2 separate regions of the Homo sapiens genome follow, and region 2 is linked to region 1. Evidence: fine-mapped expression QTL. A gene starts in region 1. The other region holds a variant in brackets. All regions are shown on one strand. Distances are from middle to middle. Region 1 holds the start of BMP6 (bone morphogenetic protein 6). Region 2 has its middle 21 kb from the start of BMP6.

Region 1 (8,333 bases):
GTTATTTTGTTTACTATCCATTTCCCCATCTAGAATCTATGTGGACAGGGATTTCTGTTTGGTATCCCAAAACCTAGACCACTGCCTGGCACATAGGCATGGAAAGATGTGTTGAATGAATGAATGAAGACTGGGTAATTAGCCTTTCTCTTCTTTTTAAAAAGCTGTCAGTGACTTTCATTTTAACCTGATTTTACCACCAGTGTGCTTTTCCCTGGCTCCACATGCCACTGGTTACGGCTTTGCTAGTTAAGGGGATTACTAACAGGATAATGTCATATTTTTATGTTACCTCCTAGTGACACAGAGACACATCCTGGACAGGAGGTACAGAGTGGGGTCACAAAATGGACTGAAGCTCAGAGGCCAGCACAGGCCAGGGAGCCTCATGCACCCCAGTTAACTAAGTGTCCAATCATTTCTTGGAATAAAACTCTTCAGGGATAGTAAAACTAGTCATGGAAATGTGTTAAGCATTGTTTTGCTCAGAAAAAAAATTGAAGACTTAGTCTGCACATGTTAATTACTCAATGAAAATTTCACAAACGATTTAATCATCTGGATGTCTCGAAATATTCTGTTGCTTAATATTATGTAGACAGCCTAAATCCTAGGGTCATAGAGATCTGAGCTTGTGTGAAAAGCTTGAAACACGTACAAGTAACAGATTTGCTATTTGGGTTATGGTGTGGAAAAAAATCTCTGGAAACAGATTTATGTATTAGTTTTTCACTTTGCCACCAGATGTCCTTCATGAGTAGGAAAATATGATGACTTGAATGATATTTTGAAGTGTGAATGCCCAGCATTTTTGAGTAGACAGTGAAAGCGGAGTGTGACTGAATGTAAATGTTACCACAGACTTTTGGATGAGACAGGTCTTTTGAAGGCTGTCTTACAGGTGTAGCTTTCAGAAGCAATACTTATTTCACTTGCAAATTTTCATTTCTCATACTTTACAACCATTTATCTATTTTCTTTTCACTCAACTCTAAATCGATATTTTAAAAATTTGATCGAATTATTATACTTTGAAATTAACATTAAGAAGTACTCAGGTCCTTATGCTAATAGTAAAGATAAAAAGTTGGTCTTTGGAGTGGAACGTCTCAATAATTCAAGGAGGCTAGACCTCAGTCTTTTAAACATGACAGCTACACAGTTTACAAGATTTTTTTTTTTTTTTTTTGAGACAGGGTCTTGCTGTCACCCAGGCTGGAGTGCAGTGGTGTGATCTGGTGATCTGGGCTCACTGTAACCTCCACCTCCCTGGCTCAAGCGATCCTCCCACCTCAACCTCCTGAGGAGCTGGAACTACAGGCGTGCACCACCACACCCGGCTAATTTTTGTATTTTTTTTTTTTTTTTTTTTTTGTAGAAACAAGGTCTTACTAGGTTGCCCAGCCTGATCTCGAGCTCCTGGGCTCAAGTGATCTGCCTGCCTCAGCCTCTCAAAGTGTTGCTATTACATACCTGGCCAAGATATTTTTATTAAGTTAATTCTAAAAGCAGCAACTTACATCTTCAGGAAATGCAGTTGAAAGGGACCAATGTAAAATTTAATATAAAATCCAAGACTGAAGTTGCAGTTTATTGCTAATAAGGTAATATAGAATATGTGTTTAATATGTCAAATTAATAAACAGCATGTTTACAAAATAGAAGCTATTTGGTCAAGTGTGTTATAAATGTATAACAGAAACCCTCAGAATATATAAGGAACAAGGACAACTACAGGTTTAAAGGATTTGTTGCGTGAATTACATGGTGCCTTAATAAACACTTGGAGACAGAATTCCCGTCCTATTCCCACTATCACTGGAAGTATGGGATGAACCTGTGCTTTCTGGTGAGGGCTCCTCATTTCTTCATTAAGTGGGGCAGGGAGATGGGACAGGCAACGTATTGCCAGAAAACTGAAGGCCATCTGCATGAAATGTCAGCCAAGCAACCAGATGTTTGATTGGATTGGCTCCCACATCCGGCTTCTTGATCGAATTCCTCCTCTTTCCACCCAGATGTTTTAGAAACACAGAGAACTTCATGAAGCTTGTTCCGGGCCCGCAGAGGAAGGGGCGGTAATATTTTGGTGTCCTGCAGGGGGCGAAGTTACCTCTAATTTTATCAAGTCGGTTCATACATTCCAGCGGACTTCAAAGCCCAGATCTGCTCCTGTCCCTCCAACTCCACCCACCCCATGCCTCCTCCTCTTGAATCACATGTGGACGTTGTCTAGCTCCCTGTCCTGAGGCTTCCAGGGGAGCACTCGGGCTGTCTAATGGGGAAGGGTCCCAGAAGCAGGGAGTAGACAAGGTGGGGGTTAGGGGATTTTTATCCACCTAGAGGTCCAACTGGCTTGGAGAAAGAGTAGTCCCAATTTCAAGGTTATTAAAATCCTAGAACTGTATCTCTTCCTGTCCCCTTTGTCCCAATGGATACAAGGGCTTGCCTGCATGTGTCCCGCAAACATGATGTGCACATGTTGGGAGCCATAGTGGACAGAAGAGGAGCACATCCTCAGTTGGATGTCACTGTCCTTATGATCATTGTAATGTCTCACTGCACAGTTTTTTTAGGAGCTTCTTCTGGCTCTTAAGGGAGATGTGCGTTCTCATGTTCATCACCTGGAGGTACTCTCGACACCTCCTCATTCTAGCCCCATTCGACAGAAACTGAGAATCCATCTTGGTGGAGTGAGGAGCCTGCAACAGACCTGAATCAGAGTTGCTGCTCAGATGTTTAGTTGATAGTCACTTTAGACTCATGTCACATGAACCCATCTACTTCTTAGTGTCTAAGGAAAGGGAGAGATGGCGTGCGTGTGTGTGCATGTGTGTGTGTGTCTTCTGCACTAGGTCCACCCCATAGATGCATACACAAGTTGAGTATCCCTTATCCAAAGTGCTTGGGACCAGAAGTATTTCAAATTTCAGATTTTTAGATTTTGGAATATTTGCATATACATAATGAGATACCTTAGGGATGGGATCCAAGTCTAAACATGAAATTCATTTATGTTTCGTATATATCTCATATACATAGTCTGAAGGTAATTTAATACAATATTTCAAATGATTTTGTGGATGAAAATTTTGACTGTGTTTTGACCATGTCCCATCCTATGAGGTCAGGTGTGGAATTTTCCATCTGAGGCATCATGTCAGCTCTCAGAAATCTTTAGATTTTGGAGCATTTTGGATGTCAGATTTTTGGGTTAGGGATGCTCAACCTCTACAATAGGTGGGTCACCCCTCGATTTTGTGTTTTAAATGACATAGCCCCACCAAGGTGCCCTCATCCATGCTTGAAATGTTGAGTTTCCTGTGTCTTCCCCACTGCCCTCGTAGGTAGAAAGTCTTTTACTCTGCCTGCATCTCACCAGAAGTCTTATGAGGAAGGTGCAACTAGGTTTAAAAAAGGAGGCTCTTGGCAGGAAGCCTAGGTGTATTTGCTGGAATTTCAGATCTTCTGAGCAGAGCTCTTGGCTGCTGTGGGGCACTGCAGTGAATTTATGTCCCTAACATGTTCCCTACAGAAAAAAGAAGTGACAGGGCTCTTGAATTCTGAGGGTCCGGGCATCCCAGACAAAGTATCGTATTATCTTTTCGGATGGAAGAAATCCCTGTAGAGATGGTTAAAGACTGGCATTCACATAAGTTTTGTGCCCTGAAATTCATAGCTATCAGATATTTGTAGAAATAAAGACTCTTCTAAATGACCACTTGTGTCTGGGCCAAGGCAGAACTAGAAAGAAGGACTCAGTGGGTAGTTGGAGTCAGTGGTGGTCTCTATTTACCCATGAGAAATAGATTCTTGGAAATAGGATAGGAATGCTTATAAGATTTGGACCAACAGAAAGCCTATGATCTCATAAATTCATGAATCCCACAGTCTATAATCTATTTGACTTCACTCTCAAATGCCTAGGACCATTTGGACTAAGGCTGGCAAGTCAGAAAATTGCAGTTTTTATTTTCAACTCCACACAATTTTCACCAAGTAAAAAACCTTCATGTTTTACGTGAATTTGCTTCTACGATCCATAGATGACTGGATGTTCTCGGGCGGGGTAAAGGCAAATGAATTTGTGTCCTCATTGGCAAATGGTGTTGGTGGTGGTGTTATCTTGTCTAAAATCCACAGGAACCTGTGTTTCAGGACCCTGTCTATTGTCCTGACCATTCAGAATGCATGCCAAGCCCCTGCTCTTCCTGGAGTTATCTTTATCACCTCTCCTCAAGTTTTATCTTGCACCATATAAGTCACATTGTATTTCAATATTAAAATGCAACATTAATAGATAAGCTGGAGAATCAAGACATTTCCAAGAAGACAGGGGACGCCTTTTCTAATATATCGTCTGATTACACCCTCTTTCTTTTGGGTGCTAGCTTAAGAAGCCAAACCAAAGCACAAATGAACAGAGAAGTCAACACATCCGACCCCAAACCCTCAGGACGCTGGCTTGGGTTACATGTGGCCCTCTCTGTGGTCAGTTTGTGAGTAGCCTCCCCGGAGGGTGTGTCCCAACTTCCAGCAGCTGCCGTGGAAAGCCACGTGTCCGCTAAACGCCTACATTACATCAATAAGAGAAACTAAGGAAGGGATGGAAAAGCTATCATTTTTCTTTTCTTCCTCAGTTCTGGCAGTATAGTGATTTAATCGCTGTTATTATTTTTATTTAGTTAAAGCATCAACTTAGGCCTTTTAAATGATGGTAAAAGAGAAAGCTTCAGATCGGGGTATTGGTCAGATCATTCTTACTAGCGATGACCTCTTCGCCTTTGGCACCTCGCGGCTCTTCGCATGCCTCCAAGAATTCCCGGGTCTTGAAACCTACGCGCGGCGGAGGCGACGCCTCTCGGGAGAGGGAGGGTGAAAGAAGGGGCGGGGCTATTTAAATAGCCCGCGAGCTTCGCGTCCCCATTGGCTGCCAGCCTGTCGGTTACCGCGGGGCGGGGAGTCCCGGGGCTGGAGTGAGGTACCTGAGCCGGGCGCGCAGCAGAAAGCCCACGTTGGCCGCTGCGGGGAGCGCGGCGTGGAGAGGCGGGAGACCGAATTCCGGCGCCGCCGCCGCGGCCGCTGCTCGGTGCACTAGCCCCCTTCCTTCCCATCCTTTCTGCGAGCGGGTTTGCTGGGCAGCCGGGCGACCGCCGAACGGAAAGCAAGATCCTCGCCGCCTCCGCTTGAGGAGGCGTGCGGCGCGCGGAGATTTTGAGTGGGAGCGACGGTGCCCGAGAGCTCAGGGGCGCGGAGTTCGTGAGCGAGAAGGAAGTTAAACCTCGCGGAATAGACTGGCATTTCGGGACGCCTTGTCGCCGCAGCCTGGGCCCTGCAACGGGGTAAACTTCATGGTGGCCCTGCGATCTGGGGAGGGGCGTGCGCCACGGTGATGCCGGGCATCTCCCGCAGCTCGTGAGCGGCCCCGCTCCCCGCTGCCCCGGGTCCCACTCAGTCGCCAGGGAGAGCGCGGGGCAGCGCACGTGTGCGGCCAGCGAGGCCCAGAGTGACCGCGCCGCGACTCGCAGGAGCCAGGGCGCAGGCTGCAGTGCAGCCCGGACTCAGACGCACCTGGCCTGGACCGCGCGCCTCTAGAGACCTGCGCGAGGCTGTGAGGCTCCCCTTCCTCCCCTCCAAGCGGTTCTCCTGGTGATCGCCCCTTCGCCACCTCTCTAGCCTGGGCAACTGGGGGCGCCCCGGACGACCATGAGAGATAAGGACTGAGGGCCAGGAAGGGGAAGCGAGCCCGCCGAGAGGTGGCGGGGACTGCTCACGCCAAGGGCCACAGCGGCCGCGCTCCGGCCTCGCTCCGCCGCTCCACGCCTCGCGGGATCCGCGGGGGCAGCCCGGCCGGGCGGGGATGCCGGGGCTGGGGCGGAGGGCGCAGTGGCTGTGCTGGTGGTGGGGGCTGCTGTGCAGCTGCTGCGGGCCCCCGCCGCTGCGGCCGCCCTTGCCCGCTGCCGCGGCCGCCGCCGCCGGGGGGCAGCTGCTGGGGGACGGCGGGAGCCCCGGCCGCACGGAGCAGCCGCCGCCGTCGCCGCAGTCCTCCTCGGGCTTCCTGTACCGGCGGCTCAAGACGCAGGAGAAGCGGGAGATGCAGAAGGAGATCTTGTCGGTGCTGGGGCTCCCGCACCGGCCCCGGCCCCTGCACGGCCTCCAACAGCCGCAGCCCCCGGCGCTCCGGCAGCAGGAGGAGCAGCAGCAGCAGCAGCAGCTGCCTCGCGGAGAGCCCCCTCCCGGGCGACTGAAGTCCGCGCCCCTCTTCATGCTGGATCTGTACAACGCCCTGTCCGCCGACAACGACGAGGACGGGGCGTCGGAGGGGGAGAGGCAGCAGTCCTGGCCCCACGAAGCAGCCAGCTCGTCCCAGCGTCGGCAGCCGCCCCCGGGCGCCGCGCACCCGCTCAACCGCAAGAGCCTTCTGGCCCCCGGATCTGGCAGCGGCGGCGCGTCCCCACTGACCAGCGCGCAGGACAGCGCCTTCCTCAACGACGCGGACATGGTCATGAGCTTTGTGAACCTGGGTAAGGATTTGGGGTAACGTAATGACGAGAACATTTCCCCCTTTTCAGTGTCCCGGGCCCAGGGGATGGAGTGAGGGGGTGGAGGAGCTCCCGGCGCGCGGGTCCCGCCTGGTGCGCCAGAGAACGCGGGGACAGGCAGGCTGTGCTCCCGCCACCTGCGCGGCGGTGGGCGGCACATGCGCTCCCCCGCGCCGCGGGCAGGGCTGCGCGCCGAGGCCCCCAGAGGCGGCTGGCCGGCCGGGCCGCGGGGCTCCGGGAGCGCTGTCCCCAGCGGGCGTGTATTTGCGGACTCCCTGAGCACGTTCCGCGCTTTTTTTCACTTCTGCCCAGCTCTGGCCAGGTTAACTCAACTGCAGCAGGAGAGTCCAGCCCGAGTGTGGCCATCCTGGGAAGAGGGCTCTTCAGTACGATTTTCCCCTCTAAACTGCCGCCTTTTGCCCCCTAACTTGGAGTGCAGTTTTCCCACCGAGACTTTTAGGGAATCCGACAGCGGCTGGGAACTTTGAAAACTTGGCATGAGTATGTTTAGAGGTATCCACGGCACTAGGGGAGGTTGCAGAGGGAAGTCCCAAAAGGACCGCGGAAGGCGCTCGGATCCCGGCCGGGCGGGGCTCGCTTCTGTTTGGGGCGGGATGAAAGCTCAACTGGGGTAATCCATCCTGTGCCCCGGCTCACATGCCCTTGGCCATTGTCCCCAAAGGCTGAACCTTTGATCAATGCAGCCCAAGCTGCACGGGCAGAGAAAGGGTGCGGGGTAGGGGCCGGGGTTGGGCGCTGAGCTCCTCTGAACCGGTTGCCAGGCAACAGAATGGAAATTCACGGGCGGCTAAATGGAGCTCCGCCACAAATGTTCTGTGGCAAACCCGGACCCAGTCACATCGCCCTTTCTCCCCCCTCCCACCCCACTGAGTTTTCTCATCTGTAAATGAGAAGGGTGCAGAGAAGACTCTTTTCTTCGGAGTCAGTGCCTCCGGTTTGCACTGCTTTTCATTCATAAGCTGACTTAGTTTAGCGCAGACATAGGATGGAGGGACGCGCTGTCAGCGGACAGATCATGGGTGCACTGGCTACGCCCGGGATGGTTGCAGCTGCGCGGCGGGGTGGGGCTTCACGGGCCTCCTTCCCATGTGAGACGGTGGTTGTGCCCAGGCCCTGAAGTGGGTGAGCAGACACTCGCCAAAGGAGCACACGGGTCTCCCAGCCACGTCAAAGACGCTCATCTTTTAACGGCATTACTTACTGGAATGATTCCCGCGTAGACTATCTGGGTGATTTCTTTACCAGCCTATCTATGATTCCCAACTCCACTGAGCTTTGAGGGAGAGAACATGGGGGGTAAGAGCCAAGGGAGGGTGTGGAGGCAGGGCGATTGGCATCCAAGTGGTGCAGAAATCCTCCTGGGAAATTCGTGAAACAGAATCTCACAGGAGTCCAGGCTCAGGGCCTGCCAATCTGGCTGCTTGCACTGCCCGGGGTTCTGATTGGACAAGAATTTTCACAATTTATTGGAACCAAATCCAAGGTTGAGCCACCTCCAGGAAGCATTCTAAGGAAATTCTCATGCCAGTCAATAAAATTTGTAGTGGGTGGGGGCCAGGGTGGCAGAGGACCAGCGCTGTTCCTTATTCTAACTTTTCTGCTGCTTCTGACTTAGTAAATTCCTCCCCTTGCTCTCTTCCTCTCCTCTCCTTCCACCCTCACCCCCCGCCCCCACCCCGCCTCCAGGTTTCCTGGCAGCTCTGGGGAAATGTTTTATTGCCTCTTGGGGGTAGTCCTAACCTGGACAAAGGGGAGGAAGACTGGCGCTCC
Region 2 (8,333 bases), 20 kb before region 1:
ATAGAGAAATGTTCAGAATATTAGAACAAATTGAAGTTGTACCTATTTCAAGAAAAATAAAATCTTTCCTATATCTTTATGTGTATAATGATTTTTAGATTATTTTTTAAATTGCCAAAATTCAATTTGGCAAAGCAGTGAACTTTGAAACACATGTTAATAAACTGAAGTTTTATTTACTGATTTTCTATAAACAAATAAACACTGAAATGTTATCTATAATAATGAATATTCTTGTGTTCCTGGAACACATTGAAATATTGTGTTGTAATAAAATAAAAATTACAGTGCTGTAGAGGTTAGCATTGGAGGTTAACGTATTATTTCGATGTATAAAATATAGTATTGAACAAAACAGACATAAATCAGCATATGGTGGGATTCCATTCATATGAAATGCAAAAATGGGTGTATTAGTCTGTTCTCACATGGCTATAAGGAGATACCTGAACCTGGATAATTTATAAAGAAAAAAGGTTTAATTGGCTCACAGTTTTGTAGGCTGTACAGGAAGCATGGCTGAGGAGGCCTCAGGAAACTTACAATCATGGTGGACGGTGAAGGGGAAGCAGGCTTATCTTATATGGACAGAGAAGGAGGAAGAGAGTGAAGTGGGAGGTGCTACCCACTTTTAAACCACCAGATCTTCTGAGAACTCACTGTCACGAGAAGAGCAAATTGGGAAATCTGCCCCTTTGATCCAGTCATCTCCCACGAGGCCCCTCCTCCAACACTGGGGATTTCAGCTCAACATGAGATTTGGGCAGGGATGAAAATCCAAACCCTAACAATGGGCAAAACCAATTTAGACTGTTACAAGTCAGGATGGTGGCTGTTCTTGGGATGGGTTCCCGGAATTGCTGGAACTGGGTGTGAGGGGCTGGTCATGTTTCTTGATCTAGGTTCTGGTTACATATGTGTGTTCAGTTTGTGAAAGTTTATCAAATTGTGCATTACTACCTATGTAGTTTTCTGAATATATATTATACTTCAATAAAATGTTTTAAAAATATGTATATCATATATCATTTCATCTTAGAAACAGAACACGTTAATAAGTGACTAGTTTTTGGAAGAAATTATTATAGCATAAGTTTTAAAAAAAGATGTTGGGGTGGGGTTTTTAACTTTCCATAATGCTGTAAAGTTTGCAACACTCACACAGTCATAGAACAAATAGAACTTTGACTTTGGTTTCAAAATTTATGCAGCTGCCTCCATATACTTTTGACAGTTTAATCACATATTTAACAGTTACAAAGCATGTTTTAGACATCAAGAGGATACATGGAGATGGTGGTAGGGCTTATATACCCATGGTCGTGTAAAACAGGAAAAATGTCAGCAAAAATAAACTATTATGCTGGTCTATTGAGTGACTTTGTCAGCTTTATAAAGGAATGAATATATAGTGTTGAAGGATAATCTTTCTGAATTAGTAAGTTATTTTTTAAAAAGCACATCTAAATCAATACCTTATTTTAGAAGAAATGTAATGTTAGGCATACTAACATGTATAAAACATAGTTTTTGAAAGAAACAGCTGATACCCTTTAAAGCTTACAGAAGACTAGAAATAATCTGACTTCCAAATGCTCCCCTCTTTGGTTGAAGCAGGAATATTCTATGAGGCATTTAAGGGAAGAGAAGCAGGGATTGTGAGTAAAAAGGGTGTGGACAATTTCCTCAAGTGAAACTTGCTTGGATAATCGGTGGCTGAACTAAAAAATTCACTTATTTAGACTTTTTACCAGTTTCATAACTAAGTTCTTCTCCAAGGGAGGCTGATGTATATTTATGTAACCATATTTTAGGGCTTAAAAAGTTCACAATTTAAAAAGACTCCTGCAAGGAAACAGGCCCTATTTTTTCTCCCAAATACCCTGAACTTTGGAGCTAGATAGCTTCTTAGTCTAACTGTTACAAAGGAATCCTTTTGTTTAAGATTTTTGTTCATTCGACTTTTGATATTTCTTGCTTTTGTCAACAAGTTAAATTCTATGTGAATTCATATCCCAGTATGATGTTCTCAATAAGCTGATCCAATTATTGCATCAAAAATGCTCCTTTTAAAAAATAGAGACCTGTCTCAATTTCTTCTCAATGGAGTGTGCAGTGTGTATTTCTAAATGAATTGAAAAAATAGATGTCAAGTAGAAGCAGGTGGCTGCTACATATTTTTGCAGTACTTAAGCAACTAATTGGCTTATTTCTTTTTAAGAAAAACTGATGAGGAAAACATCCTTTTCTAAAGAATTAAACAGCATCATCATCATATTATGTTTACTTAGCACTTTCCAGTTTGCAAAGCATGTTTCCTATTTTTGTCGTTATTCAATCATCACAATAATTCCATTAGTACTAGTTAGGTATGATTGTTACTCCTGTTTTACAAATGAGAAAACTCTGACTCAGAGGGCAGAGCCAGGGCTGTCTGCCTGTGTGTTTAGCTGGGTGACATCCTTTCCACGACATCATAGGGACCTGTGATCAGAAAAAGGAAGAATTTTTTTCTAACTTTTTTTTCTGAAAACAAGAATTTTTGCAAACGATATGATAGAATATAATTGAATTTTAAAATTAGACAAGGTTTTTCAAAATAATTATTCACTTTATTCAGCAAATTAATTTTATTTCAAAATAGTAATTTCTTTTATTCGACAGGTATTTGTTCAGTAACTCCTGGGAGCCACAAATAATTCTGGGTTCTGGGGTGAAAATGCGCGTGGTATAAGTTGTATGGAAGGTATCATCTGCCCTCTTGAAGGTTATGGAGTTCTCAGCAAGATGCCCATTAAACAATCACACACAAATGGATAAATGTTTAAATCGATGGTACATACTAAAACAAACTTTGGAGGGAGCTGTGAGAGTTGATTACCTGGGAACTCAATTTAGACAGGGAAGGCCTCTTGAAGGAAGTGGCATTTAAGCCTTGAAGTAGGATACAGCTGGGTGAAGGGTTGGGGAGGCGAGGGAAGAGCATTCTAGATGGAGCAAACAAAGTGTGCCAAGTGCCTGAGGCAGAGACATTGGGACCTCTAGGAGATGGAAGCAGCCCAGATGTTAAAAGAGCACAGCGGATGATGAATGATTTTGAGGCTGCTGAATGTGGGGAGGCTATTAACATTTTTTGAGGAGCGGTACAGTTTACATTTTAAGACCATCATGCCTGCTGCTGGAAAAAGGAGGGGCGAGGAGTTGGAAGAAGGGATAGGATAGACCTGGAAGAGGAGGACTCCCTCAAAACCATGCCATGAGAAGCTTCCAAAGCAGCTCTTGGACCTGACAACGGGGGGCCAGTGATGACCCCACAGGGTGTGGGGTGGAAGCTAGTTGGGGTGAGTTGACCTGGAGACACTACTGGCAGACCCACTTAATAGGAATTTAGTTGTCAAGGGAACGGGAAAGATGGAGAGGGTGTTGGACGGTCTGAATGGTTATGTTCCTCCCTAATTCATCTGTTGAAATCCTAACCCCCAAGGTGATAATATTAAAAGATGGGGTCTTTGGGAGGTGCTTAGGTTGCAAGAGAGAGCCCTTGAGTGGGACTAGTAACCTTATAAAACAGGCCCAAGGCAACTTGTTTGTCCCTTCCACCGTGTGTGCTGGCCGTGAGAAGATGGCGGTCTACGAACCAGGAAGCAGGTCCTCGCCAGACACCGAGGCGTCCGCTGGTGCCCTGATCTTAGACCTCCTACCCTTCAGAACTGTGAGTTTCTGTTGTTTAGAAACCACCCAAGTCTAGGATATTTTGTTTTTTATTTGTTTTTTTGAGACGGAGTTTCGCTTTTGTTGCCCAGGCTGGATTGCAGTGGCACGATCTCGGCTCACTGCAACCTCTGCCCCTTGGGTTCAAGCAATTCTCCTGCCTCAACCTCCCTAGTAGCTGGGATTACAGGTGCCCGCCACCACGCCTAGCTAATT[C/CTT]TTTTTTTTTTTTTTTTTGTATTTTTAGTAGAGACGGGGTTTCACCATGTTGGCCAGGCTGGTCTCGAACTCCTGAGCTCAGGAGATCCACCCACCTCAGCCTCCCAAAGTGCTGGGATTATAGGCGTGGGCTACTGCACCCAGCTCTAGGATATTTTTGTTATAGCAGCCTGAACAGACTAAAGACAGGGTGTACATAGGGCAGGGAATTGAAGGAAAGTGGTGGTGGTGGTGTTTTCTCGTTTTTTTGTTTTGTTTTGTTTTGTTTTTTTGGGATGAGATCTTGCTCTGTTGCTCAGACTGGAGTGCAGTGGCACGATCATGGCTCACTGCAGCCTCGACCTCCAGGACTCAAGTGATTCTCCCACCTCAGCCTCCCGAGTAGCTGGGACCACAGGTGTGTGCCACCACACCTGGCTAAGTTTTTGGTTTTATTTATTTTTTGTAGAGACAGGGTCTCCCTCTGTTGCCCAGCCTGGCTTTAAACTCCTGGGCTTAAGCCATCCTCCTACCTCAGGCTCCTAAAGTGCTGGGATTACAGGCCTGAGCCACCATGCCTGGCCTGAAGGGACGATCTTGAAAGTGGAGCACGCTGAAGTATCTGGGCACAATAATGAAAGTCATTCATCAGTGAAGGAGAGATTGATGATGGTGGCAGTGGTGGTGTGTGAGAAAAAGAATCTCAGACAGACATACACTGTCAGCTAATCAAAGAAGGAAAGCCCTTGGGCAGTCACAAGAAGATGTGGCCAGAATGCATGCAGAGCATTTTACACTGTTTTACGCTGCTCCTGGGATAAGAGAGACACTTCCATTGTGGTAACAAGAAGGAAAGGCGGAGAAGATGGGTTTACAGATTTGGTTTGGGAAGATGAAGACATTTCATTCCAATGGTTGTTTTTTTTCCCCTGCCTTTAGGAAGCATGAAGTGGGGTCAGAGTGAAGGGCAAGAGGAGAGCTGGGGTTGGGCAGACTGAGGCTGTCTGGATCGATGATATGGCCTTAGTGTGGAGATGAAGAGAGAGCTTGCTAGGCAGTGTCCTTGGAAATGGGTGAAGATGATCTTGACACCAGTCCCCGTACTGGGTATTTTTCCTCAGCAGCATTTAGCCCTGCAGTGTATGGGGTTCATCTAGTTTTGGGAGACTATTGGAAGAGTTATTGGTTGATTCAGATGATTAATAATTGAATTGGGCATGCTTTCTGAAATGCTTACGATTTCTATCAAAATATTCGATGTGAATATGATGCCACAAGGGGAACCCCTGGAATCCATGGCACTTCCACAGCACTGACATGGCCTTCCTGGCTTCTGTATTTCTTTTATTGGTAGCAAAGGTAGAGACGGAGACAAAGAACTGGAATTTAGACGTTGGAGATTTAGTTTCTGGCTGCTAAATTCCACTGCAGTGTTACATAGTTCAGAAGGCTGGTAAGTAAAGTACAGTGAGTCCCATGACCAGTTTAGAAGTGTGCCTCTCTGGAACTCACCGTCATCTCAGAGCACACAGCTGCAGGAAGCTCACAGAGTCACTCTCAGGTCACTTCTCTGAGTTAAAGTGGAACCACCTGCCCACCCCTTGCCCACACACACCTTCCTTCCTTGACCCTGCACCCCTCCGGCTTTCTTATCTCTTTCTTTCCTTCACAGCAGGCCTTCTACTTCTTCTGCCTCTCTCTTTCTTCCCTTTCCGTGAACTCTTCGGCGCCTTAAATGCCAGCTTCTACCTCTCTGCAGCTGCACCCCCCGGGCTCTCAAATGACCTTCTGGTGGCTACAGCCGGTGGAAACTCTCCAACTGCCATCTTACTTGATTTGTCCTGTATTATTTCCACTGCGCTCTCTCCTGCTTGGTGAATTCTATGGGCCTATTCTCTCCTTAGTTTCCCACCTATCTCAATGGCAAATTCTTCTTAGTCTCTTTTGTGGGTTCCTCTTCCTCCTCTCACTCCTAAAACATCATAGGTCCCTCGAAACTCTGTCCTGAGTCAAATTCATGTCTCCAGCCAGGCTGACCCTGAGGGCTATTCCTGTCTAACTAGGCAGCTCCATGTGTGTGTGTTCTATAAAGGCCTCAAACTTCATATGTTCAAAGTTGACCTCATCATCTTCTGCTGAACTCTGTTTTTGCAAATGTCACTGCTGTTCACCAGGTTCCTCAAGTCAGAAACCAATGGATCATTGTCAATTTCTCCTTCTCTATTTTCCTGTACATCTAATTAATCACAAAGCCTCATCCAGTGTGTATCTTAAACACCCCTCACCTCTGTTTGCTTCCCACAACACAACTGCCATCACTCTAGTACAGGGGCTTCTCCCCTCTCATCTGAAACATTAGTAACACCCTTCTTTCCTTCCCTCCTGTTTCTAGATTCATCTCCATAATCTACCCGCCACAATGTCAATAGAATCACCTTTCTAGCATGCAGATTGTCTTGTCACCTCTTTGCAAGAAATTCTTCAGTGACTCTGTCTCACCTATGGCACATAATTTTTACCCTTTTAGAAGGACACAGAGGTGTCTTTACAACCAGGCCTACACTTGGGACCCAGGTCTTGGAGCCCTTGCCAATGAAGCATTTTGATCTACTTCTCAATAACCATGATCTTGCATGCCTCTTGGTCTCTGCATATGCCGTTCCCATCCCCTGGAATATCCTCCCATGCTTGTTTGTCACACTTGGTGAAACATTTGCCATTTTCCTGGCTCGGTACCTGGAGGTCCAAAATGGAGGCTAGAGAGACAATAAGTACCAGAAACTGCCCACATTTAGAGTCAGACACTCCATCAAGGATTACTAAAGAGTCTGCACAATTTCCTTACAACCCTCAGCCATGACTCTTATCCTTCCCTGTGTTCCCAAGGAGGGTAGAGAGAGGGAATCACTGGAGTCAGTTGTCACTGGCCTGGTGGGGGAATGCATGGCTTTTCCACTTCCTCACCATGGGGTAGGGAGGGCTGTTGCCCTTAAAGCCGAGTGTGTGTGGTGAGCAGCAAGAGAATCACTTGCAGAGATGAATCACAAGAAGGGAAGGCCGGTGTCACGCTCCCTGACTGCATGCCCATGAAGCTGGAAACCTATTGGCCCACTCTTGTGCTGCCAAAGAGCAGAGGGGAGCCTGGGGAAGGGATTCCTGGGGGAGCCTGACATGTGTCGTGGGAGTTTAGGAGTACACATGTATGTATGTAGAAATGGATGCCTCCTCTGCCTGGAACTCTAAGGCATGAGTCTTTCTGGAATAGCCCTTGCCAGGAAAGGGAGTAAGAAACACACAGTTTAGTGTGTTTTATCAAGCTTGCCCAACCCATGGGCCACATGCGGCCCAGGACAGGTTTGCCTGCAGCCCAACACAAATTCATAAACTCTCTTAAAACATTATAAGATTTGTTTATGAATTTGTTTAAACTTATCATCTATCGTTAGTGTCGTTAGTGTTAGTATATCTTTTTTTTTTTTTTGGTGAGACAGAGTCTCACTCTGTTGCCCAGGCTGGAGTGCAGTGGCGCTATCTCGGCTCACTGCAAGCTCCGCCTCCTGGGTTCACGCCATTCTCCTGCCTCAGCCTCCGAGTAGCTGGGACTACAGGCGCCAGCCACCATGCCCGGCTAATTTCATGTATTTTTAGTAGAGACGGGGTTTCACCGTGTTAGCCAGGATGGCCTCGATCTCCTGACCTCGTGATCTGCCCGCCTTGGCCTCCCAAAGTGCTGGAATTACAGGCGTGAGCCACTGCGCCCAGCCCAGTGTTAGTATATCTTATGTGTGGCCCAAGACAATTTCTTCCAGTGTGGCCCAGGGAAGCCAAAAGATTGGACACCCCTGCTTTAAATGAAGAGATCTCATTTCAGTTCTCTTTGGCCTTCGGGGTACGTGGAAAATGACTTCAGAGACTTCTATGGGTATTGAGCACAGAAGTTAGGTGAGAAACAGAAAGGAGAGTAATTAGGAGACATCTGAGGCAAAAACAGGACCAACTTTGAGAGGAGATTGAGAGTATGGGCCACTGTCAGAACCAGACACATGGCTGCCCCTTTCTGAAGGGGTCATCAAGGATGGGGAAGGCAGAGGTGAGCCTGAACTCGCCCCCTAAAACCACACATGCTGCGTTTGTAGAGACCACCATATCAGTAGAGGGCACCAGCATCAGATTGAACCAGAGTGGACCAGAGATGCATCCCATCACCATCACTAGTGGGACAACAGATGCTCAGCATAGCCTCAGGTTTCCTGTATGTTTCCTCCAGTCTTCATCCTTGCCAGAGGCAGACTCAGGAGAGGGAGGAGAAGCAGGTGTTCCATGACTAGATCACACTCTTCTGTCCAAGTCAAGGTGCTGGCATGGGAGGGTACAGAACGGAAGAAGAGGTTTAAATTGCACATGTGTGCATGTGCCCTACACCCATA

What was found. PIP is the estimated chance that this variant, and not a neighbour inherited with it, causes the effect. A credible set is the group of variants that fine-mapping cannot tell apart.
Region 2: its variant is the best candidate, but not a certain one, in a credible set for the expression of BMP6 in monocytes (Quach 2016, PIP 0.88).

What each region holds. Positions count from the first base shown.
Region 1 is chr6:7,721,096-7,729,428 of GRCh38, forward strand. It overlaps BMP6 (bone morphogenetic protein 6), which reads left to right and starts at 5,004. Exons shown (of 7, transcript NM_001718.6): 1 at 5,004-6,524. The coding sequence starts at 5,861. RefSeq lists an enhancer at 2,180-2,239.
Region 2 is chr6:7,701,060-7,709,392 of GRCh38, forward strand. No RefSeq gene overlaps it. Among named protein-coding and RNA genes, the nearest start is that of BMP6, 21 kb to the right of the region's middle. The variant C/CTT (reference allele first, on the strand shown) is at 3,928.